Homo sapiens: one gene and its partners. The protein of the gene in region 1 purifies or fractionates together with the protein of each later gene. This does not show direct contact. Each region holds a gene or a part of one and is shown in the gene's direction. Other genes may lie near its edges. The genes, in order: SERPINB8, TOX4, PLXDC2, CTH, GOT1, TIFAB and FANCD2OS.

Region 1 (2,794 bases):
CTGTCCAAGGTTGCCCACAAGTGCTTCGTGGAGGTCAATGAGGAAGGCACAGAGGCTGCCGCAGCCACTGCTGTGGTCAGGAATTCCCGGTGCAGCAGAATGGAGCCAAGATTCTGTGCAGACCACCCTTTTCTTTTCTTCATCAGGCACCACAAAACCAACTGCATCTTGTTCTGTGGCAGGTTCTCTTCTCCGTAAAGAGGAGCAATTGCTGTACATACCCTCCTTTCCTTCTACCTATCTTGCCTTAATTAACATTCCCTGTGACCTAGTTGGTGCAGTGGCTTGAATGCCAAAATAAAGCGTGTGCACTGGATAGTGTGTGAAAGTCTTTGCTGAAAGTTCCAGAGCCATTGAGAATAACTGAGGCCGCAGATGCATGAAATTTGGGCCTGGGAAGGCTATGCTGGTTTTGGAGTGTTTGGGGTGCCTGCCATTGCCTCTGCCTTCACCTAAGTCTGTGCCCATTGTTTCAGGGGATCTTATGGAGCATCTCAGGGCTTCAGGAGCCAGCCCTCTTCCATCCGCCCGGCTCTGCCCACCACCACTGCCAGGCTGAACAGGGGACTAGTGCCCAGGTGACACTGCACACAAAGCCAAGGGCAAACCCTATAGAGTAAAGCTGCAGCCACCCTGTGTCTCATGTGCAGCTGAAATAGTGATCTGCTTCTGTCACTGTCACATAGACAGCCCTGCATGCCCCCTGTCTCACACAGTTTGTAATGAAGACAGCTCCTTCTCATCTTTCCATAAGCCTGAGATACAAGTTCAGGGACTCAGCAATGCACTTTAGGACTGAGCTAGGAGGCAAATATCTGAAGCTTGCTATGCTGTTCTTTCCATTCCTTTTCCCTCTGAAACACACAAAATACCAAAGGAACTTACGCAACACACCACTGAGTCCTCTAACTAATCATATGTGCTCAGACACAGCTCAAGCACACCCCTTAGTTAAGAAAGAACCTCCATATACATTAATTTTTTTCTGCCTAAAAATAAAATTGCGTTGTGGCAGCAATTTGGAAACTACAGCAAAGTCTCCAAAAAAATTGAAGTCACCCACAATTCCAACACACAGCAATCACTGCTGTTAATAGTGATATACATCCTTCCCTATTATGTGTATGCAAATAGAAATTTATAAGCATTTTACTACAAGTTAATCATATCCTTCAGTAGCTTATTTCTTCCCTTATGAAAAACCTCCCTTAAGATCTTTCCAGGTCATCAATTTGATGTGCATAGTATTCCACTGTGTGGCTGGATTTCTATAATTGAATCTAATTTTAGACAGTTTGAGTAATTAAAATTATTTCTATTAACAAATAATAGATTGCTAATAATATATATTATGCTGTTTTGGATATACTAAATATTTGCTCACATCCTTAATATATTTTTTAAAATTCCTAACAATAGTACTGTTGAGATAAAAGTTGAGCACATTTTGAGACTTCTTCCAAATTGGTCCCTAGAAAGTTACACTGGTTTGTACTCTCACTTATGTCACTGTTTATACCACCACTGACTGCTGCCTGCTTTATTATTTCTTTAATGAGTTGGACTGAACAGTGGTTAATCCTGACTCTGTTTTTGACTGACAGTTAACAGTTACATGAACCATTCATATTACAGCTCTTACTTAAATTTGACCAAGCCAGGATATATCTGTTAGGCCACATTCATTTAGGGATCATGTTTTCCAAAGCAGGTTTGGGCAAAATTAATCCACAGGACTGAAAGGTATACATCTGTGAGTTTTGTTCTCACTTCCACCTCTAATTTGAAGAACACTTTAATTGACACAGAATACATTTCACATATTTAACCTCTACAATAAGTTCTGACACATTTTCCATGAAACAAACCATCGCTATATTCAAGATAATGAACCTATCTATCATACTCCCAAATTCCTTCTTGCATCTTTGTAATTTCTCACTCTTCCTTCTCCCTCTCCCCGTCCCATCCCAACCACTGATCTGCTCAGGCAACTACCAATCTTCTTTCTGTCACTATAGATTAATTTGCATTTTTAAAGAAATTTACATACATGGAACCATACATCATCTATGCTTTGTAGTATGACTCCTGTCACTCAGTACAATTATTTTGAGATTCATTTATGTTATTGTATGTATCAATAGTTCATCCCTTTTATTGGTAAGTAACATTTTTTTGTATAGGTATACCATGATTTGTTGATGAACAAATTTACCTGTTGATGAACATTTACGTTGTTACCAAGATTTTTGCTATTGAAAATAAAGTTTTTATGAATATTTATATATATACATCTTTGTATGGACATATGTCTTCATTTCTTTTGTATATAGATACATAGAAGTAGAATGGCTGGGTCATATGGAAGGTGTAAGTTTAACTTTTTAAGGATCTGCCAAATTGCCTTTGAAAGTGGTTGTATCATTTAACATTCCCAGTAAAGCCTAGGAGAGTTCTGGTTTTTCTCTCTTCTCACCAATACTTGGTACTACCAGTGTTGTTACTTTCAGCGTGTACCGGCTTTTGGTTGCATTTCCCTAATGCCTAATTATGTTCAGCATTTAAAAAAATGTGCTTAGGCCGGGCGCGGTGGCTCACGCCTGTAATCCCAGCACTTTGGGAGGCCGAGGCGGGCGGATCACGAGGTAAGGAGATCGAGACCATCCCGGCTAAAACGGTGAAACCCCGTCTCTACTAAAAATACAAAAAATTAGCTGGGCGTAGTGGTGGGCGCCTGTAGTCCCAGCTACTCGGGAGGCTGAGGCAGGAGAATGGCGTGAACCCGGGAGGC
Region 2 (3,500 bases), on another chromosome or scaffold:
GACGGTAATGGTAGAAAAGAGATAAAAGAATTGAAAATTGTGACTGATGTTAGCAGCCTTGAATGTACCAAATGACCAAGGGTATCAGAAGAGAGATTGGTAAAAATAATAGGTTCTAAGAAATTGATTATAAAATAGGATCCTAAGCAGAAAAAATGCATCCTGAGAATCTCTAGTACCCCATTATGTTCTTCACTTAGTAGTATGCCATTTCTCCTCTTTTCACTAATTCTTTTCCCCCTTTTTTCCCCTACAGACATTCCATACACCAAGCTTGGGTGATGAGGAATTTGAAATCCCACCTATCTCCTTGGATTCTGATCCCTCATTGGCTGTCTCAGATGTGGTTGGCCACTTTGATGACCTGGCAGACCCTTCCTCTTCACAGGATGGCAGTTTTTCAGCCCAGTATGGGGTCCAGACATTGGACATGCCTGTGGGCATGACCCATGGCTTGATGGAGCAGGGCGGGGGGCTCCTGAGTGGGGGCTTGACCATGGTAAGGGGCAAGACATTGTCAGGCTTACCCCAGCTAATGGGCATGGCATTAGGGGAGACAAAGTTACTCTATTCCCTGCTACACTTGGGTATTACTTGTTTCTCTTCTTGTGGCTAAAGGCTCACCAACAAAGACTTAATTTCACCTGAATAAATGAAATTTACCATGTAGGTAGATTTTACTTGAAAAATAATTTAAAATTGTACAATGTCTGGTTTGAAAATTATTTATTGTGGTTTTTGGGAAAAAGTGTTTTCTGCTTTTATTATGGCCTTCACATCCTAGGATTCAAATTTGAATGTGATAGCTGGCACACGGAGGGATTTATTCAAAAATGGCCTGAATCACGTTGAGCAGCCAGCAGAACAGAGCTTAAAAAAAAAAAAAAAGTCTGAGCCAAATATAGTATTGTGGATTAGTATGTAATATAAATCAGTATATTGGGCTTCCAGCACATCGAACCAGTAAGCACATCTTCATACTCTATATTTGATGCCAGACTTTAATATTGGCCTTATTTATGCTGATTGCCTATGTATTACAATTTTAAAAGCTATTATTTTGGGAGAGTACAGATAGGAAGTTTTTCTTTACTCAATGTGTTGTCACTACCTATATATTACTGAATAAGTTGATAGCTCTTTGACTTGTCCAACAGTGCGACTTCTCTGATTATTTTTAGTTCTTCTTTTGAGTGCAAAGAAGTAAATTCATTAATTTCTGTACTTTTTTAAAAAGCTTATTTTTTTATTTTCATTTTTGAAGACTATTTTATGTTTTGTATTTTAAATGATACAATTTGGGTAGGCAGGGAATTTATAAGCTGTCTTAAATTTAGGGGGGAAAAGTGGTTTTTTTTATATTTAGTGTTTAATTAGTCCTTCTGCTTCTCTCAGGACTTGGACCACTCTATAGGAACTCAGTATAGTGCCAACCCACCTGTTACAATTGATGTACCAATGACAGACATGACATCTGGCTTGATGGGGCATAGCCAGTTGACCACCATTGATCAGTCAGAACTGAGTTCCCAGCTGGGTTTGAGCCTAGGGGGTGGCACCATCCTGCCACCTGCCCAGTCACCTGAAGATCGTCTTTCAACCACCCCTTCACCTACTAGTTCACTTCACGAGGATGGTGTTGAGGATTTCCGGAGGGTGAGGCATTCCCTGTCAAAATCAATTCTGCTGTGATAGTCTGGGATAAAATTTTTGGGATACAGAGCCTAATCAGTATTCTTTACCCTTGCCGTGCCATCTCCTCTGCTGTTTTCTGGGTATGGGGTTCCACCTCCCAATTTCCAGTTTATAATTCTCCTCTCAATCCCTATTCTTATTGGTTCTCCATATTTGACTAATGTCTTTTAATGCTATTTCTATGATTTTTAGCATTTCTGAAAATTCCATACATGTGGCTAGTTTCCAGACATAATACTTGTCATTGTCCATTGTGTAATTCTCTCTTTTTTCTCTCCTACAGCAACTTCCCAGCCAGAAGACAGTCGTGGTGGAAGCAGGGAAAAAGCAGAAGGCCCCAAAGAAGAGAAAAAAGAAAGATCCTAATGAACCTCAGAAACCAGTTTCAGCATATGCTTTATTCTTTCGTGATACACAGGCTGCCATCAAGGGACAGAATCCTAATGCCACTTTTGGTGAGGTTTCAAAAATTGTGGCCTCCATGTGGGATAGTCTTGGAGAGGAGCAAAAACAGGTGAGCAAATATTGAGGAACTAGTAGTGAATGTTCCAGAAGTTTTTAAAGAGATAAAAATTGAGGTTTTCTTTTTTCTTACATGTCCTTATCTAATATCAGCTGTTTGTTAATGACACTTAAATATCATCCCTTGTCTTCGAAGTTGCAGCCATACACTCACTCCAGAAAACCTATTTAAATTTTTTTTTTTTGAGACAGAGTCTCGCTCTGTCACCCAGGCTGGAGTGCAGTGCCGTGATCTCAGCTCACTGCAAGCTCCGCCTCCTGGGTTCACGCCATTCTCCTGCTTCAGCCTCCCGAGTAGCTGGGACTGCAGGCGCTTCCACCACACTGGGCTAATTTTGTTTTTGTATTTTTAGTAGAGACGGCGTTTCACCATGTCAGCCAGGATGGTCTCGATCTCCTGACCTCGTGATCCACCCGCCTCGGCCTCCCAAAGTGCTGGGATTACAGGCATGAGCCACTGCGCCCGGCCTATTTAAAAATTATTAATAGGCTGAGTGTGGTGGCTCATGCTTTTAATCCCAGCACTTTGGGAGGCCAGGGCAGGAGGATTGCTTGAGCCCATGAGTTCGAGACCATCCTGGGCAACATAGGGAGACCCCCGTCTCACAGAAAATTAGCTGGGTGTGGTGGCATGTGCCTTTGGTCCCAGCTGTGGAGGCTGAGGCGGGAGGATTGCTTGAGTTCAGGATATAAAGGCTGCAGTGAGCCATGTTTGTGTCACTGCACTCCAGCCTGGGTGACAGAGCAAGACCCCGGCTCAAATAAATAAATAATAATTGTTATAGGCCGGGCGCGGTGGCTCACGCCTGTTAATCCCAGCACTTTGGGAAGCCGAGGCAGGCGGATTACGAAGTCAGGAGATCAACACCATCCTGGCTGACATTGAAACCCCGACTCTACTAAAAATACAAAAAAATTAGCCGGGTGTGGTGGCATGCCTCAAATCCCAGCTACTCAGGCGGCTGAGGCAGGAGAATTGCTTGAACCCGGGAGGCAGAGGTTGCGGTGAGCCGAGATCATGCCATTGCACTCCAGCCTGGGCAACAAGAGTGAAACTCCATCTCAAAAAATAATAATAATTGTTACAGAAGTACTGCATCTTTACAATAACTCTCAAAAATAGCTACCATTTCCCGCTTTTAAGGTGGAAACTGGAGCCCACTGCCCAGTTAAGGTCATATAACATTTAAGTGGTAAAGTTGAGACACAATCCAGGTTCTTTAACTCTTCCCATGTACTTTCCACTAATAATGTCTCCTATAATTCCTCATGTAGTGTCCTTC
Region 3 (3,500 bases), on another chromosome or scaffold:
CTGGTCAATAGATGACTTTTTGGGCCTGAAATCCAAAAGAGGAATGTGGACTGGAAATATAGATTTATGAATAATCAACATAAAGATGTTCATTGCAGTCATGGGTGTAGAAGAGATTGCAAAAGATAATGCATAGAATGAAGTGACAGAGCAAGAATGATCCATAAGAACCACCCCAACACTTAAGGAATTGACATAAATAAAAGGAAATTGAGATGGAGTTGTGAGGGAGGTGTCAGAACATTGAGGAGAGGGTGTGTCACAGAAACCAAGACAGGGGAGTGGACATCTGCACCATAGGCTGATGAGGTGTCAGTAGGACACCATGGAAGATGTTGGATATTTAGCTAAGGAGATATTTAGAAACATTGGTACGAGAAATTTCAACTCAGTTGGATTAGGTAAGAGCAAGATTGTCATAAAAGGGAAAGCTGGGAGTCTGAGAAGACCAAGGCAGACTGATCTCTCTGGAAATATGACTGCGTATGAATGGAGGGAAAGCAGTATAATGTCAGGATGCATTGGGGAGAAGAGGGAGGCAGTCCCTCTTCTGGGACTGCCTCCCTTTGCAAACTGGAATTTGGGTTTGCAAAATAAGATTAGGCATGCTTGTGTACCTTTAAGTGTTGTTGATAAGAAGCCAGCAGAGAATTAGGGGTGGCAAATATTGTAGAGAAAGGACTATGATCACCTAAGCAAATTCACAATACCTGTGAAGGTGGGCTGAGTTGAGCTAGGACATAGGTAGAAATAGGTTGAAAGGATGGCTATAAGGAAAGGTCCCCATCCATTATCACAGAAGGAAAGAATAGGTCAGCCCAGAGTCAAGTAAGTATGCTGATTCACTAAGAAATTTAAAGAAATCTTGCTGATCATGCCTATTTATCAAGGAAATGGAAGGTGAACCCAAGGAGTAAAACCGGGAGAATCATGATGGGATTGCAGTTTTAGGTAAAGTGGAGAGAGCTTGAAATTCATACTGAGCATAATGGGAGAGGTGATTAGCAAGACACAGCAATGCTGCCAAGTGGTATGCACGGCCCTGCTAAGGATGCAGGAGATGTTTGTGGAGCCCCCATGGCGGGTCTGTGTGATTATTCTCCAGCTGTGCCTGGCTTTGGAGCAGGCAGGGAAAAGGCAGATCTTTTCTTTAAAGGTGTTGTAGAAAAAAAAACTAAAAAAAAAAAAAAATAAAAAAATAGAGCAAGATGCTTGAAGCTACTGAAATGAGTGGTTGAAGTAATGGGGGAAAAAGAAACTTAAAAACAAAATCATTTTCTTAGGCTTTCTAAGTAGTCAAAGAATAAGAAGAATTGGAGTTCGCAGGTACAGGGATAGATGGAAAAAGGATAACTGAGCTTATGATTTCAGATCTAAAACATTTTCCACTACAGATATAGTCCAGGGTGTGGGGATGACAACTAAAGTGGTATCTGAAAGGAAATAATTAGATTAATGGGGCTCAGAGGTGCAGGAACTGGAATTTGGGGAATTAAATGAGACCCTAGTATGTTTAGACTTGAAGTGGAGAATAAACCTGTTTCATATCCTATTAATGAAAAGGAGGCTGTCTCAGGAAGTCTGCATTAACAAGGGGAAAGGCACCTAGCGCTCCACTAATGATGAGAGAAGTTTAAGAATGATATTTATTTAACAATAATTTTAAAATGTGGGATGAGAACCACTCATGTCCAGAATAGTTATTTTCTACTCAAGGCCCACCTGAGAGAGGGAGTCCACTGCGGCACAAAAGGTGGATAGAAACACCAACTTCTAAGCTATAAAAGTTTGGATGTTGGAGGTTGTTACCAGTGAAGGTTGTAGGATTTGTTTTCACAAATTAAAAATAAAAAATTCACTATGTCTCATTTCCTGATGTTTTCAATATAGCTCTGCTAAGGAGGAAAATAGGCTGAGTGATTACAAGAGTTCTGTTCAATCCTTTGCTTATGTGGTTTTGAATATTTCATAAAGGAAAACAAAATTTTAGACATTCATTCAACTTGTGACAGATGATTTTTGAAACAATGAAGTAGTATGGGGAAGTTAGCAAATATTTCGGATTTAGCATTGTCAGTTTGATACGAAAGGAATGCACTTTTTCTCCACAAACCTGAGTATGTTTTAAACCTTATCTTTATGCACCTGTTTTTCTTCTAGTATAAATTTTCCCTTTTGACAGTGTGTCTTTTATAAATATACCAATGTAAAATTTAGGGCAAGGTAAACAGTAATATGAAAGCTTAACAGCAGTAAATGATGAAACCTAAATATCTAAAAAGGGAAATGCCTTGTTCCATCCATCTTTTTCTCTTTCCTATTTTATAAACTTCATAAATTAGCAAAATCATTAATATAGTCTTGTACAAAAGTAATTTATTCCTTGTCTTGATATGAGAGGCTTTTGTGCTTTACAGCCCAGCTTCTTTGATGTAAGTTCTAAAAATAGATTTGTGATCACTCCATTTGTTTTCCTTTTCTTTTCTCTTACTAGTCAAAAGAGAAGATGTGTGAGAATACAGAACCAGTGGAAACTTCTTCTCGAACCACCACAACCGTAGGAGCGACAACCACCCAGTTCAGGGTCCTAACTACCACCAGAAGAGCAGTGACTTCTCAGTTTCCCACCAGCCTCCCTACAGAAGGTACCCAAGAGATAGTTTGCTTTTTTTTTTTTTTTTTTTTTTTTTTTTCCCTGAAGGAAGGAAAAATCACTGTGTTGACATGTACTGGAATAGCTCCTACTCTCTAGGTCTCTCTAAAGTTATTCTTTGGCAAACTGGATTTCTAAGGGATTTCCAAAGGGGAAAAAGACAAAATTATTATGAACTAAAAGTAAATGCTGGGATTCTTTTAATGCACTGTGCCTTTTTTTAAGACATAGCTTTTACCATTGATTCTGGCTTCTTGTCCTCTCCTTCCTAGAAAAGAAATACAGATTTCTTCCTGTGTGGCTAAATTTTGTACTAAGCAAATCCAACTTCACAATCACAGGTTAGAAAGGCAAAATGCATATAAAATGTCCGTTGATTCTGGATTCTGAACAATAAATAATTCTATTAATATATAATTCTAATGTTTTCCAGAATGCAGTCAATAAAATATATTGGTCTATAACCTATACAGAAACACTGTATGTGTCATAGAAATTGTCCTTGAAAACAACTATTTCCTCTTCTAAGGTAGGCAGAAATACTAGAGAGTGTTAATGCTTGGGCACAGCTCAGGAGGAAGAAAGTGTATTACCCAACATACGATAATTTTCTATTCTGAATGATACCACCAGGAGGGAGAGGGCAGAAACATAAGACTGGCCACGAATCAGGTTTGAGGGGGATAAATGGGTCTTACTTGTTTATTGTTATAAGCCTCACTTTCTTTGGCTTGAATAAAAAATTAAATATGGAACTTTTAATTGGAATTTAATTTGATATTATAAGGTGAACTGGAATAAAGTGGGGTGGAAAGCAGCTGCTAAGTGCATTTTACTGCTTTTAAAA
Region 4 (3,500 bases), on another chromosome or scaffold:
CTTTCGGAGGCTGAGGCGGGTGGGTCATGAGGTCAGGAGATGAAGACCAACCTCCCCAACGTAGTGAAACCCCATCTCTACTAAAAAAGTACAAAAATTAGCTGTGTGTGGTGGCGTGCCTGTAGTCCCAGCTACTCTGGAAGCTGAGGCAGGAGAATCGCTTGAACCCGGGAGGTGGAGGTTGCGCCACTGCACTCCAGCCTGGCAACAGAGCGAGACTCCCTTTCAAAAAAAAAAAAGTCTGCTCAACTTGTCATAAACAAGGGCACATAGCAACAAAACTTTTAGAAGTTATTGTTGTTAATACTGGGAGCTTCTGAATCAGAAACAAAGGTGAAAGAGTGGTTGTGTTTTGTTATGTTATGTGAAGCAGAGGGAGAAAATTATAGGACTTCTAATTAATGTTCGAATCCTTGGTTCACAATCCGGTTTTGACACTCCCTAGGTACTATTGCATTTGGCTTCACTTTCCTCAAAGCCAGTCATAAGGATTAGTAGAATGACTGGATGAATATAGCTAGCAGGGTGCCATATATGTAAAAGGAGAATAATGCAATTTTTTTTTTTCCCGAGACAGAGTCTCGCTCTGTTGGCCAGCCTGGAGTGCAGTGGCACTATCTCGGCTCACTGCAACCTCCGCATCCTGGGCTCAAGCAATTCTCCTGCCTCAGCCTCCCGAGTAGCTGGGATTATAGGAATGCAAATTTTTAAAAAGTATTGTGTGGAGCTGTTTTGCCAGGAATTGCTCCCTATGCTTTGAGCCACTTTTGTAGAGCCAAGATGTGAATGAATGTTGAGCATTGGTAGGATGTGATCATAACTTCCTGTTGTATGCTAAATAGAACTTGAATCAGCCTGACAGATGGCTCACTCCTGTAATCTCAGCACTTTGGGAGACCAATGTGGGAAGATTGCTTGAGGTCAGGAGTTCAAGACCAGCCTGGGCAACATAGCTAGACTGCCTCTACAAAAAATAAAATTAAAATATTTGTTAGGCATGGTGACATGCACCTGTAGTCTTAGCTACTCAGGAGGCTGAGATCGGAGGATTGCTTAAGCCCAGGAGTTTGAGGCTGCAGTGAGCTATGATTGCCCCACCGTACTCTAGCCTGGGCAACAGAGTGAGGTCCTATCCTTAAAAAAAAAAACTTGTATCACTTAATCATTTATTTCTTAGGAAATGAAATACAGGTTAGAATTAGGTTTATTCTGTTGGCTCATGCAAGTCCCTTTTCCTAATGTTTCCAGATTAATGAAAAAAGGTGAGTCTAACATAATAAACATACTAATAATAAAAACTGTCATTTATTTAGTGATTAGCATGTGCCAGGAAACATGTAGTGAATTTGTGCATTATCTCATTTTATCTTCACAACAATTTTATGAACCAGATATCTGTATTTTATTCCCATTTTACAGATATTGAGATTGACTCTTGGAAATGTGAAGTAACTTACCTAGTGTCATGCAGCTCATAAGTGGCAGATACAGAATTCACATAGAGTTTGTTTGACTTCAGAGCATCTTGACTATAGCCACAGCACTGTTCTGCTTCTGTATTAAAGCAAGACATATCATGACTAAAGAATAGAAACTAATTATGGTAGGGTGAAACTATAGTTCTCTATGTTAGGACTCTGATAATAAACTGAAATCTCTTAGGATGAACTCGAACTTGTTTTTTTCAGGGTTTTGAATATAGCCGTTCTGGAAATCCCACTAGGAATTGCCTTGAAAAAGCAGTGGCAGCACTGGATGGGGCTAAGTACTGTAAGTAATTTCCATTTCACAGTCTAGAATCTATTTTTAAATGTATAGAGAAAACCATAGAGGCACAGAATGTGGAACTGAAAAGAAACAGATTTGCTAGTTCAAAATTCCTGTTCTACTGCCTTTGAATTCTTTGCCCAAGGTCCCTCAGTTGGTATAATATGCATATGTGTAATCATCAGGTAAAAATACGTATGAATAGAGGACAAATGAATAAAGGAAAAAATTCACACGAATACTACATTTATTAATACTACATTTATCATGTAGTATTCATGTGAAAACAATCTTCATCTGAAACTGTCAGTATAAATAAATAAATGGAAATTAAATTTAATAACACCACCTATTAGAATATAAAATCTTTTTTTGAGACAGGGTCTCTCATTCTGTTGCTCAGGCTGGAGTGCAGTGGCACAATCTCTGCTCATTGCAACCTCCTCCTCCAGGATTCAAGCGATTCTCCTGCCTCAGCCTCCTGAGTGGCTGGGATTGCAGGTGTGCACCACCACACCCTGCTAATTTTTTTTTTTTTTTTTTTTTGAGACAGAGTCTTGCTCTTGTCGCTCAGGCTGGAGTGCAATGGCAGGATCTCGGCTCACTGCAACCTCCGCCTCCTGGATTCAAGCAATTCTTCTCCTTCAGCCTCCCAAGTAGCTGGGATTACAGGTGCCTGCCACCACGCCCAGCTAATTTTTTGTATTTTTAGTAGAGATGGGGTTTCACCATGTTGGCCAGGCTGGTCTCGATCTCCTGACCTCGTGATCTCCCGCCTTGGACTCCCAAAGTGCTGGGATTACAGGAGTGGGCCACCACGCCCAGCCTTTTTTTTGTATTTTTAGTAGAGATGGGGCTATTTTGGCCAGGCTGGTCTGGAACTCTTGGGCTCAAGTGATCTGCCCACCTCGGCCTCCCAAAGTGCTGGGATTATAGATGTGAGCCACCACACTTGGCCTAAACTTGCTTATCCTCTGGTTTATTCACCTAATAATTTGTGCCTGAGAATAGCACTAAAGTTATTTTCAGTGGTCAATAACTCCTGATAATGTGCTGTCAGAGATTAGAGATTAACTCCCTAAACTTTTTTTTTTAATGAAGAGAGTCTTGTGTATTCATTGTGATTACACTTATCAGACAAATCTCAGGTCTGATTGCGAGTTTTGTTAAAATATTTACTGAATTGCATATTCATATAATTAACGTATGAATCATATCTTTGCTCTATTCTTTATGTTTGAAATTTCTCTTTTCTTTCTTTTTTTTTTGATATGGAGTCTCCCTCTGTCACCCAAGCTGGAGTGCAGTGGTGCAATCTTGGCTCACTGCAACCTCCACCTCCTGGGTTCAAGCGATTCTCCTGCCTCAGTCTCCCTCGTAGCTGGGATTACAGGCATGTGCCACCATGCCTGGCTAATTTTTGTATTTTTAGTAAACACAGAGTTTCACCCTGTTGGCCAGGCTGGTCACGAAATCTTGACCTCAAATGATCCACCTGCCTTGGGCTCCCAAAGTGCTGGGATTATAGGCATTAGCCACCACGCCTGCCCTGAAATTCCTTTAGTTTGCTATTTTTAAACTGTAGTTTAACTGGCAATAGGCCTTTTATCTCAGATATTTGTAAAGAATTATTTTCTTGAAGTGTTTCAGAGAAATATTATTACCAAGGCAAAATTGACTTAACACAAAAGTATCTGTCCACATTATATATTTTTTATTTTAAAGATATCTTA
Region 5 (3,500 bases), on another chromosome or scaffold:
TGGAGTTGCTGTTTTTGAGGAGTATCTTCATGGCATTCTCTGTATTTCCTGAATTTGAATGTTGGCCTGCCTTGCTAGGTTGGGGAACTTCTCCTGGATAATATCCTGCAGAGTGTTTTCCAACTTGGTTCCATTCTCCCCGTCACTTTCAGGTACACCAATCAGATGTAGATTTGGTCTTTTCACATAGTCGCATATTTCTTGGAGGCTTTGTTCGTTTCTTTTTATTCTTTTTTCTCTAAACTTCTCTTCTCACTTCATTTCATTCATTTGATCTTCCATCACTGATACCCTTTCTTCCAGTTGATCGAATCGGCTACTGAAGCTTGTGCATTCGTCATGTAGTTCTCGTGCCATGGTTTTCAGCTCCATCAGGTCCTTTAAGTACTTCTCTGCATTGGTTATTCTAGTTAGCCATTCGTCTAATCTTTTTTCAAGGTTTTTAACTTCTTTGCGATGGGTTCGAACTTCCTCCTTTAGCTCAGAGAAGTTTGATCTTCTGAAGCCTTCTTCTCTCAACTCGTCAAAGTCATTCTCCATCCAGCTTTGTTCCGTTGCTGGTGAGGAGCTGCATTCCTTTGTAGGAGGAGAGGCACTCTGATTTTTAGAATTTTCAGTTTTTCTGCTCTGTTTTTTCCCCATCTTTGTGGTTTTATCTACCTTTGGTCTCTGATGATGTACAGATGGGTTTTTGGTGTGGATGTCCTTTCTGTTTGTTAGTTATCCTTTTAACAGTCAGGACCCTCAGCTGCAGATCTGTTGGAGTTTGCTGGCGGTCCACTCCAGACCTTGTTTGCCTGGGTATCAGCAGCGGAGGCTGCAGAACGGGGAATATTGGTGAACAGCAAATGTTGCTGCCTGATCGTTCCTCTGGAAGTTTCGTCTCAGAGGGGTACCCGGCCATGTGAGGTATCAGTCTGCCCCTACTGGGGGGTGCCTCCCAGTTAGGCTACTCAGGGGTCAGGGACCCACTTGAGGAGGCAGGCTGTCCGTTCTTAGATCTGAAACTCCGTGCTGAGAGAACCACTACTCTCTTCAAAGCTGTCAGACAGGGACATTTAAGTCTGCAGAGGTTTCTGCTGCCTTTTGTTCGAGCTCTGAGCCTTTCTTCTGCTTGGAAGGCCTCACCATTCCCAGGCTGCTGTCTTAGTTCACTAATAGCCTCTTAATTTACCTTCCTGCCTCTAGTCTCTTCCCTGTTTTAGTACATTCTGCATGCTGCAGCTAGGATGACCTTCCTTGGCAAAACAAGCTACTCATGTCACCTGTTCCCACTCCCCACCCCCACCGCCCATAGCTCCCCCATTGCCTGTAGGGTAAAATCCAGACTTTGAGCTTGGCATGCAGTGAAAGTAGGTGACAGGTGACAGTCTTCATCCTGTTCTTACAGTTGCTGATTTCCCCTCACTCCACTAGAGGTCCTGACATTCTAAGAGTCTTGCTGTTCTCTAGACCTACTGGGCCCTGTCAAGACTAAGAACCTTTGCCTGGCCCTTCTCTCCATTTGGAATGCCCTCCCTTATTGCTCTAGCTGTCCAGTCCCCACCTCTAAGTCCTTCAAGAGCTGATCAAGGGTCACTTCCACACTGAATCCTTAGGTATTTTAGGCAGAGCTTGTTGTTTAAGCTCTCTGAGTTATCACAGGACTTTGTTCACAGCTTGGGAATAACAGTACTTAACTGTTCTTACTATAATGGATAATTTTATAAGTCTTCATCTCCCACAAGGCCCTAACTTTCCCCAGGAGAGTGATCATTGCTTATTTACCTTGCAGATTTTCAGCATTTGGCTCCTATCCGGGTACCTCAGGTTCCAAAGGTTTGGATTCATTCATTCCTTTAGTCATCAGATGCCCACTACTAGAGCCAGGCACTGTTCTAGATGCTGGAGCACAGCAGTGACTCAAACACACAGAATCCCCTGCCCTTGCATTCAGTTTCGGGGAGAGGAACAGACTCTAAATGTAATCTTTTTGACTATATCAGTAAGAAAATGATGTAGTATACTAAAGATGATAAATGCTATAAAAATGGAGCAGGAGGTGGCATGTTAGGAATTCTAGGAGTGGATACAGTTTTAACTAGGGTGGTTATGATAGAAATAGAAATGACATTTGAGCCAAAACTTAAAGACGAGACATAAATGAAAGAATGAGTGAACAAGTAAACCAACAGTAATTGTTTCTTCCCTTAGATTTTTCTTCTCCAGATTCAACATTTCCAGATCCTTTACCCATTTTGAGGAGACCTATTTTCTAGACTCCTCACTGCCTTGTATTACTTTTCCACTTTCAGATCTTAGGATCCAGACAGAAATGTCGATTTTTCATCTCTGGCATAGTGCTGTTTCAGCTTTGAGATTACTGAGCATTGTAGGAAGGAGGGCTCATGGGTCATAACTCATTGTCACATCATGACATCCCACTCTCGCTTTGATTGCCTCTAGGCGACTTGGGGCTTCTGCTGTGGCTCAGATCTTTTCACCACTGTCTTCTTTCTTCATCTAGTTCAGCACATGCTTATGTAGTACCATGTGCCAGATGCCGTGAGAGATGCTGGGGGCACCCAGATGAATGCAGCATGGCTCTGGCCACAGGCAGCTCCTGGTTGCTCTCCTATTCCTCATGGTGAAGTCATAGTATCGGCAAATTGTTATCTCAGACAAGGGTTCTAGAATCCAGCAATCTTATGCTGACATGTCCAACAGAGGCCTGCTCTATCTAGCTTCATACCAAGTCTTCCTGGATTTCCCTTGTTCTGGATACTCTTGTTTACCCAGGTCCAGTTGCCTGGCTCCTTGAGAAGTCTGTACTTACTTCCTTTGATGTTATGATTTTCCTTTATAACAAGTACAGGACATTCTTAGGCTGTAGGACAATTTGCCAAAAATCAGTTCACAGAATGACCACATTGCTATATTATTGATTCACCAAAAACTTGTTTCTGTTAGTTGCTGATGTTTAGAGCAACTTGTGTTTCACTGAAGCCATCCAGTATTTAATAGATTTTTAGGGAGTGATAACTTCTTGAGAATTTGATATTTCAAGTGTCATATATGTCATGAATGTCAAGGATTAGTTAATGTGGAGTGGGTTTATCTCTTCTAAGCACATTTTTAATGTATTCTACTGATTTTTAAAAAAATGAATTTGCTTTCTGTAGTGGGAGAGAAAGGGTGGAGTGAAAAGTTGAGAACAGGAAATGAAAAATTATGCCTGGGAATGTTTCCACTGGTATCTATGCATCTATCGTGTTTCCAGAAGTTAAAACCATGTTCAAGGGAGGTCTTGCTCATTTGCTTAGGAAGTATTAGCACTCTAGAGTGGCTTAGGTATCTGCAATGTGAAGTCATGTATGAAACTGACATTCAACTTAGCTGGATGACAAATCCATAAAAAATAAATGCACATTTGTGTTATATCATCTTGGTAGCAATTTGCATAAAGAATTCAGGTAAACCACAATGTGGGGGCAAAACTTTTAAAGTAATAGCAAGGGATG
Region 6 (4,081 bases), on another chromosome or scaffold:
CAAAAAAGAAATATTTCTGTATAAATCTAACAAAACATATACAAGATCTATATGAGGAAACCCATGAAACTATGATGAAGGAAATCAAAGAACTGAACAAATAGAGAGATATCCCATGTCCATGAATAGGAAGATTCAATACTGTCAGGATGTCAGTTCTTCCCTCCTTTATTGATAGATTTGATGAAGTCTCGTCAAAATCCCAGCGAGTTATTTTGTGGCTATTAACAAACTGATTCTAACATTTATATAGACAGACAACTCAAAAGAGCCAAGACAAAATTGAAAGAGAAGAACAGAATTGAAGGACTGGCAGTACCCAACTTCAAGACTTACTACAGAGCTGCAGCAATCAAGACAGTAAGGTATTGGTGAAAAAATAGACAAATAGATCAATGATACAAAGTAGAGAGCCCAGAAATAAACCCACATGAATACAGTCAACCAATCTTTGACAAAGGAGTAAAGAGAAAACACTGAAGGAAAAAAAACATGGTCATTTCGGAAAATGGTGCTGAGACAACTGAACACCTATAAGCCAAAAAAAAAAAAAATCTAGACACAAACCTTACACATGTCAGAAAAATTAAAATGTACGTATAGAACTATAAAACTCCTAGGAGATAACGCAGGTGACTTGAACACACTGGTGGACTATGAAATGCTGGGCTACGTGAAGGGTTAGCACCTTCACATTCCAGGGCAGCCAGAGCCCGCAGTGCTGGACAAGCGACCATCTTCACCCCTTCCAAACTGCATGCAAATAGGCAGAGCTCGGGCGATGGGGAGTGGGCATGAGAGACCACCTTCTCACTGTTCTGCAGGAGAGATCATGTTCTATGAGTGGCCATTTACTGCCCTCTCCATCCTCCCCGTCCCCAGGCCCTGCCCTCTCCTGAGACCCTCAGGGAAGTGCCATGTTGCCTACAGTTTCCTTGGCCAACCTCTATCCAGCCAGAACGCTCTCCTCATTCTCCCACACTCAGGGGACTCTCCTGTCCCGTAGCCATCTGTCCCAAAAAGCTCTTCTTTTCTAACATGCCTGGGCTGCTTTGACCCCATCCTACTGGCAGGTGGAGAGGAACTTTGCAGATACCCTGGGTGCAGGTCCTAAGGTCCCTGGGGGTGGGGTAGGAGAGGCTGGCAGAACTGAAACCCAGGAAGGCAGGCCATCTGTCTCAGAAGGGGCCCCACGCTGGGGTTTCTCAAACTCTCAGCAGTGGAATTGCACTTCTGCAATGAAAAATTACACTTCTATTTTCTTTCCTAAAGGGAAAAAGGAAGAATGCAACAAAACTGAAGTATGTTCTGCCACGTTCCTGAACTGCAGCCATAGGAGCCCTCCCAGCCCTACCCAAACCAGCCTACTCCCTCTCAAGAGCTCACAGCTGCAGGACTAGAGCCAGATGTGCCCCGGCAATAAGGTAAGTTGAAGCCAGAGGGGCTTGAACCCATGGGGAGAAGGGAGGGCCTGGTGGGGCTGGGAGGAGGGCTCCCCTGAGACACACATTCTGGAGTGTCTTCCTCCTGCCCCGTCCCAAAGGCTGGATTTGTAGGGCTGGGTTTCTGTTTCCCCAGAACACCTGGGATCCAAAAGACACGGGACAGCCTGTCGTGGATGGGCTCCTCTTTAGTGGGAGATTTCTGTTAGCTCTGGTTGGAGCAGAGAGTAAGGCCACACAGCAACTGTGAATCTTTCTTCCTGAGGGATTCTTTCAGGGTCTCTGTGCCGTGATATTAGTTTCTGGGAGTGAACTCTTGAGTTTCCAGCCAGGCCTGACAGCATGGGTTGCCCAGCCCACCTGTCCTGGGCTCAGCCTGTAACGCATACCTCGAGAAAAGGCTTTCTGGCTGGGCGTGGTGGCTTACGCCTGTAATCCCAGCACTTTGGAAGGTCGGGGCGGGCGGATCACCTAAAGTCAGGAGTTCGAGACCAGCCTGGCCAACATGGCGAAACCCCGTCTCTACTGAAAATACAAAAATTAGCTGGGCATGGTGGCGGGCACCTGTAATCCCAGCTACTGGGGAGGCTGAGGCAGGAGAATCCCTTGAACCTGGAAGACGGAGGCTACCATGAGCCAAGATCATGCCGCTATACTCCAGCCTGGGTGACAGTGTGAGACTCCATCTCAGAAAAAAAAAAAAAAGAAAAAAAAGAAAGGCTTTCGGCAGACTATGGCCAGATGGGGTGTGGGTAGAGGCATATGTGTGTCTGTGCCTTAGGGGAAAGGGGGTGCCCTCAGGCCTCTGATAGTGAAAGGGTGCCCTCACTATCAGACTAAAAGGTCTCAGCCATTAACCTACTGCATCTAAAAGGCAGGAGGGGCAGCAGGTTCAAGACCTGGAGGGACATTGAGTTCAAGCCACCTGCAACAGGCTCGCTGTCCCACAGCCTTTGAGACATGATCCCATTTGTGGTCTCTCTGGGTGATTTCACCATGTGTGTGTGTGGGCTTCTCATTTAGCCACTCGGCAAATGTGCCCCTGGACATTTATGGTGGCCAGGCCCTATTTGTATGGGGCAGTGGAACATGGGGCAGCAAGAACCACAGCCCAGACCATACCCAGCCCTTGGGAGGCCTCAGGGGCAGGAAGAGAGGAACTCAGGGAAGACAGGACAAGGGCCCACAGAACTTGGGCATGAAATGCAAAGATGGAATGAATGGAGAGTAAGGTTGGCCAGGTGTCCTGGGGGATTCCCCCTGTTGTGGGAGTCAGAAGGCAGCGAAAGGTCACCTTCCCCAGGGAAGGGAGCTTCACAGGAGAGGTAACACTTGAACAGGGCCTTGAACCGTGGGCAGTATTTGGACACAGAGTTTGGGATGGAAGATGCATTCTTAGGAGAGAAATAATGTGAGCAAAAGCCTGGTACCCAGAGAATGTATAATTAGTTATTCAAATCCACTCAACCCTTGGTTCCTGTTGAAGATGATGGCAGGTCCTGGGCCACAGGGTGCTGGTGGACATAGCAGAGTTTGTGTTCCTCAAACCCATGCAGGAACAAAGCTGGCCATTGTGAGTGGCCTTCCAGCAAGTGCCCATAGTAACCACTCGGAATGTGCTAGCTGTTTACTCTTCACCAGGGTTTCTAGGCAGCCTTTCTGGTGGCCAGGACTAGGCTAAGCATCCTCCTTCTGTGTCCTTCCACACATCCTGATGCTAGAAACACCTCTCTCCTCCACCAGTGGGTGCTCCCAAGAGTCAGGGCTCGGTTCGTTGTTGAATCTGCTTCTCCCCAGCAGCTGGTTCCCTGCTTGGCTCAAAGGAGGATTCAGCAAGGGTTTGTTGTGTGACTGTCAGATACAAGGAAAATGTAGCCAGTCTGTCTACCCTTTCCTTTCCAAGAAGCAGGGCCAAGTTGTCTCCAAATAACCAAAAGATTACCAAATCCCCACCCTGCAAGCCAGCATGCCTTATCCCTTGCATAGACAAGGACAGATATATCTATACTACAGAAATCCAAAAGTCAGACAGAGTGGGTGGCATGTTCTATTCAGAGTATGAGAGAGACTAAGCTCATGACCTTCCACACCAATTCCAGCCTTGGCTCCATCCTGGCTTGGGCAGAGTGATTGTATGAACAGGCACAGGGCCCCTGAGGTGGGCAAGTGTGTCTGGGCTCAGGGAGCCACAGAGGTCTCTGACTGAAGCTGAGCCTGTGTGTCCATGTTCCAACTTCCCAGGACTTCTTCCATGGAGAAGCCCCTCACCGTCCTGCGAGTGAGCCTGTACCATCCCACGCTGGGCCCATCTGCCTTTGCCAATGTCCCACCACGGCTGCAGCATGATACCAGCCCTCTGCTTCTCGGACGGGGGCAGGACGCCCACCTCCAGCTGCAGCTCCCTCGCCTCTCCCGCCGTCACCTGTCCCTGGAGCCCTACCTGGAGAAAGGCAGTGCCCTGCTGGCCTTCTGCCTCAAGGCCCTGAGCCGCAAGGGCTGTGTGTGGGTCAATGGGCTGACGCTGAGGTACCTGGAGCAGGTCCCCCTGAGCACCGTCAACAGGGTCTCCTTCTCAGGCATCCAGATGCTGGTTCGCGTAGAAGAAGGCACATCCCTGGAGGCTTTTGTCTGCTATTTCC
Region 7 (4,075 bases), on another chromosome or scaffold:
CGTCTCAAAAAAAGAAAGAAAAAAAAAGAGGGAAATAAAAATGAACTAACTGGGGAAAAAAGTTTTGTAATTCAAAATCATTTGTGTCTCTTCCAAGTCTCACTATTCTGTGCCTCTCTCTTCATGTTCTGACCCGACATGCCCTCCAGACTCTTCTCCACTTACCTCTTCTTCCAAAAGGTGCACATGTACACACAGTGGGTGTGTGTCTTCTAAATCAGGATCTTGCCTGACTCTATTCTCAGACCCTCAGTCTTTCTCCATCAGCTTTACCCAAAAAACCAGAACAAAGGTGACAAGTCTTATTTGTGGTGTGTGTTCTATAGTTTGTAAAATGCAAGGGCAATTCTGGGTGTACAAGGGAAGGCCAAGTAGGCCATTAGTTACTTCCTCCCACAAATACTGCACACTGCCAGACATGGCAATAGCCAGGTACTGGGAATACAGACATCAGCTGGGTAGACTCCTCCCTTCCCTCAGCCATCCAGGGTCATTATTTTAAGTGATGATTACAAAGTTGTCAAATCACTCCTTCACTAATATGGCGAAAGTGTATTTCTGCATTATAAGAATGAGACAAAATCATTCTTTTTGAGATTTTTTTGTTTTCTTTTTGAGCTGGGAATCTCACTACGTTGCCCAGACTGGTCTTGAACTCCTGGGCTCAAGCAGTCTACCCATCTCAGCCACCTAGATAGCTGGGATTACAGGTACTCTCAGGTTTAACGCAAGGCTGAGAAAGGTTTTCTGTCAGGAAATCAAGGAAAGACGTGCGTTTCCTCCTGCTCTTGACAGGTGAACATTTATTAATTCTCTTTCTTTGCCACTGGGATCATTCAAATAGAGCAACAAAACCTGACAGAGCTCTGGGTCACTCTGCCTGAGCACCCACTGAGCAGAGTGTGATGAGTTGGGACTAACTTTTAACACTAACTACAGGTCCTGGGACTTTTATGCAGGCCTCTGACCATGGCCATTGAAGTAGGGGTCGCCTGTCCTCTGTGGCTTGATCAAAGGCACACAGGTACACAGGTGTGGCACGGTAGGGAGGAGGACAATGGAGGGGACAGGATTCGGACCAGCCCTCCTGAAGGCCAAGTCCTGGACAAGGCATTCCAATGAGGTGGGGGCGGGGAGTGTGGCCCTGACGCCTCCCAGTAGGGCGCCTCGAGCCCCCATCCCCGCCGCGGCTCGGGCTGCCCTGCCGTCCTGGGTCACAAAGGCGGTTGCCAGGCGCCACGAACAGCGGCCGCCACTTTGGAGCGTGAGACCCTCAGAGTTCAGCAGGTGAGCCCCGGGCCCGGATGGTGGGACTGGGCCCAGGTTCCCACCGCATCGTCCGCCTCAGCCAGAACCTTCTGGTCCCCGCCCCCGGATAGGGACCCAGGAGGCCCAAGCCCCTTCTTCCGGCGGGGAGTGGGAGCCTCTCGCACTCTCGGCAGCTCCAGACCCTCGGGATCTCCGTTTACAGTTCAGGACCTCAGCTGCACTTTGGCGCTAACGCCCTGTTTCCCAGGTGGGGAAATCAAGAGATGGGGTTCCTTGGAATGGGAAGTGGGGTGTGAAGGGGAAACCTTTTTGGCCAGGAGAATCAGGTGTTCCATATCTGGGAGCTATTGAGCAGCTTGAGCAGACTTTGTAGGTTCAAGCCCTTCTGGAGTGGTTGACAGTGACTTCTGGGCGGTGGGGATGGGGTGAACCATCTTTAAACTTTGTGCGAAGAGGTGCAGGGACCTAGGTTTAGAAGCGCTCTCGTCCCATGTTGGTTCTGCCGAATATTTAGGCTGACTCCTGACCTCAAGTGATTGGCCCGCCTTGGCCTCCCAAAGTGCTGTGATTGCAGGCCTGAGCCACCGCGCCGCGACCTAGGCTGGACATTTGACAAAGACTTTTACTTCTACCTCTACTTCCTCTTAGAAGATGTGGCAAGAAAAGGATCCGGGGGGCCCGGGCCCGGTGGCTCACGCCTGTAATCCCAGCACTTTGGGAGGCCGAGACGGGCGGATCACGAGGTCAGGAGATCGAGACCATCCTGGCTAACACGGTGAAACCCTGTCTCTACTGAAAATACAAAAAAATTAGCCGGGCGTGGTGGCAGGCGCCTGTAGTCCCAGCTACGGGAGGCTGAGGCAGGAGAATGGCGTGAACCCGGGAGGCGGAGCTTGCAGTGAGCGGAGATCGCGCCACTGCACTCCAGACTGAGTGACAGAGCAAGGCTCTGTCTCAAAAAAAAAAGAAAGAAAGAAAGAAAAGGATCCTGGGATTAAATACTTTTTTAAATCCCATATTCTGGGATTAAAAATATGCTTGACAGCATTCATACCCTCCGCCCACCTTGCCATGGTGGTGTACCACAGTAGTCCCTCTCTTGGATATGTGCTCTGAAGGTCAAGATATCAAGCACCAGAAGCCTTTCACAGGGTGTTTGGAATAGATAACTGTCCCTTGGGTGTCCCTTTCTCATTCTAAGGCAGCCCAGATATTTGAACACTTAGTACTTTGCAAAGAGCCTACATAGATCATGAGAAACATACTAGTTGGAGAAAATCAACAAATCCCCCTATACTAACCATTGTCAGGAGCAGGTCTTCTGGTCTGAAATGTCACCAACGTTTTTTTCTTTTTTGAGACGGAGTCTCCCTCTGTCACCCAAGCTGGAGTTCAATGGCTTGATCCCGGCTCACCGCAGCCTCCATTCAAGTGATTCTCCTGCTTCGGCCTCCTGAGTACCCGGGATTACAGGCACCCACCACCACGCCTGGCTAATTTTTGTATTTTTAGTAGAGACGGGGTTTCACCCTGTTGGCCAGGCTGGTCTTGAACTCCTGACCTCAAGTGATCCACCCACCTCGGCCTCCCAAAGTGCTGGGATTACAGGTGTGAGCCACTGTGCCCGGCCAACAGTTCTTTTTTTAAAACGAACTTTTCTATCTCACAAACGGCGGTGAAGGTGTCAAAATTTTCACAGTATTTCTGGGGCAATTACTGGATAGGATGAGATCTGCTGCTATCTTCTGTGGGAGAAGAAGGGGCAGAGAAATACACTTGGCTAGAAAGAAAAGGGACCTGCTATGCCCACTAACAAAATAGGTACGTGCTAAAAAAAATTAGCTTCTGAATTTAGTAAAACTTCTTATATACTGGCAATGTTGAAGGAGAATGATGGAAAATTCTAATTTTACTTGCATAAATTTTCAGTTAGCAATATCCTCACAGCCCTTTTTAATCTTCAAAGGAAAAAGAAAATTAAGGTCTTATGGAACCAGTAGGTCTTCCATAGATGGAAAACAAACAAATCAGAAAAACAAATTTAAAACCACACCCACACCTAGAAAAACAAAAATCTTTAACAGTTTTTTGACTGGACTTTGGAAGTGTTTTCTCCCAGCCTGGTGTAGCTCCTCTGAGGTGGTATATAAATAACCCAGGGGTCTGCAAGTTGCTCCCTTGTGCTAGAAAATGCAGAGGCCTTTGGGGCCAGGAGATGATCTCAGTAATGAATAGTGAAAGCTAGAGTTGTTTGAAAGGAATAGCATAAGAAATTCTCAAAATAGACAATGCAAGAGGGCTTATATAAATGCAGATTGCTGGGTCCCACGTGGAGTTTGTTCCTGTTGGTCTGAGGTGGGGCCCAAAAATGTGCATTTCTGCAAGTTTCCAAATGATGCTGAAGCTGCTACTACAGGGTTCATACATCGCGAACCTCAAAATATATATATATATATATATATATATATATATATATATATATATATATAATTTTTTTTTTTTTTTTTTTTTTAGATGGAGTCTTGCTCTTTCACCCAGGCTGGAGTGCAGTGGTGCGATCTTGACTCACTGCAACCTCCGCCTCCTGGGTTAAAGCAATTCTCACACCTCAGCCTCCCCACAGAGCTGGGACTACAGGCATGCGCCACCACGCCCGGCTAATTTTTGTATTTTTAGTAGAGACAGGGTTTCACCATGTTGGCCAGGCTGTTCTGGAACTCTGACCTCAAGTGATCCGCCCGCCTCAGCCTCCCAAAGTGCTGGGATTATAGGCATGAGCCACTGTGTCCAGCCACAAATATTTTTA

Evidence for each region.
Region 2: the proteins of SERPINB8 (region 1) and TOX4 purify together in Homo sapiens (affinity purification with mass spectrometry; 2 studies listed by BioGRID and IntAct, with this or other methods). This does not show direct contact.
Region 3: the proteins of SERPINB8 (region 1) and PLXDC2 purify together in Homo sapiens (affinity purification with mass spectrometry; 2 studies listed by BioGRID and IntAct, with this or other methods). This does not show direct contact.
Region 4: the proteins of SERPINB8 (region 1) and CTH fractionate together in Homo sapiens (co-fractionation; one large-scale study listed by BioGRID). This does not show direct contact.
Region 5: the proteins of SERPINB8 (region 1) and GOT1 purify together in Homo sapiens (affinity purification with mass spectrometry; one large-scale study listed by BioGRID and IntAct). This does not show direct contact.
Region 6: the proteins of SERPINB8 (region 1) and TIFAB purify together in Homo sapiens (tandem affinity purification; one large-scale study listed by IntAct). This does not show direct contact.
Region 7: the proteins of SERPINB8 (region 1) and FANCD2OS purify together in Homo sapiens (co-immunoprecipitation; one large-scale study listed by IntAct). This does not show direct contact.

The regions. Positions count from the first base shown.
Region 1 is NC_000018.10:63,987,081-63,989,874, forward strand, and holds the end of SERPINB8 (serpin B8), read left to right. Parts: coding exon 1-198; 3' UTR 199-2,294; downstream 2,295-2,794. UniProt on the Homo sapiens protein: Has an important role in epithelial desmosome-mediated cell-cell adhesion.
Region 2 is NC_000014.9:21,487,195-21,490,694, forward strand, and holds part of TOX4 (TOX high mobility group box family member 4), read left to right. Parts: intron 1-256; coding exon 257-499; intron 500-1,395; coding exon 1,396-1,656; intron 1,657-1,978; coding exon 1,979-2,209; intron 2,210-3,500. UniProt on the Homo sapiens protein: Transcription factor that modulates cell fate reprogramming from the somatic state to the pluripotent and neuronal fate. In liver, controls the expression of hormone-regulated gluconeogenic genes such as G6PC1 and PCK1.
Region 3 is NC_000010.11:20,214,932-20,218,431, forward strand, and holds part of PLXDC2 (plexin domain-containing protein 2 isoform 1 precursor), read left to right. Parts: intron 1-2,494; coding exon 2,495-2,645; intron 2,646-3,500. UniProt on the Homo sapiens protein: May play a role in tumor angiogenesis.
Region 4 is NC_000001.11:70,414,268-70,417,767, forward strand, and holds part of CTH (cystathionine gamma-lyase), read left to right. Parts: intron 1-1,688; coding exon 1,689-1,770; intron 1,771-3,500. UniProt on the Homo sapiens protein: Catalyzes the last step in the trans-sulfuration pathway from L-methionine to L-cysteine in a pyridoxal-5'-phosphate (PLP)-dependent manner, which consists on cleaving the L,L-cystathionine molecule into L-cysteine, ammonia and 2-oxobutanoate.
Region 5 is NC_000010.11:99,410,125-99,413,624, reverse strand, and holds part of GOT1 (aspartate aminotransferase, cytoplasmic), read left to right. Parts: intron 1-3,500. UniProt on the Homo sapiens protein: Biosynthesis of L-glutamate from L-aspartate or L-cysteine. Important regulator of levels of glutamate, the major excitatory neurotransmitter of the vertebrate central nervous system. Acts as a scavenger of glutamate in brain neuroprotection.
Region 6 is NC_000005.10:135,449,552-135,453,632, reverse strand, and holds the start of TIFAB (TRAF-interacting protein with FHA domain-containing protein B), read left to right. Parts: upstream 1-1,281; 5' UTR 1,282-1,424; intron 1,425-2,910; exon of another isoform or gene 2,911-3,133; intron 3,134-3,683; 5' UTR 3,684-3,693; coding exon 3,694-4,081. UniProt on the Homo sapiens protein: Inhibits TIFA-mediated TRAF6 activation possibly by inducing a conformational change in TIFA.
Region 7 is NC_000003.12:10,105,456-10,109,530, reverse strand, and holds the start of FANCD2OS (FANCD2 opposite strand protein), read left to right. Parts: upstream 1-1,275; 5' UTR 1,276-1,516; intron 1,517-2,993; exon of another isoform or gene 2,994-3,071; coding exon of another isoform or gene 3,072-3,090; intron 3,091-4,075.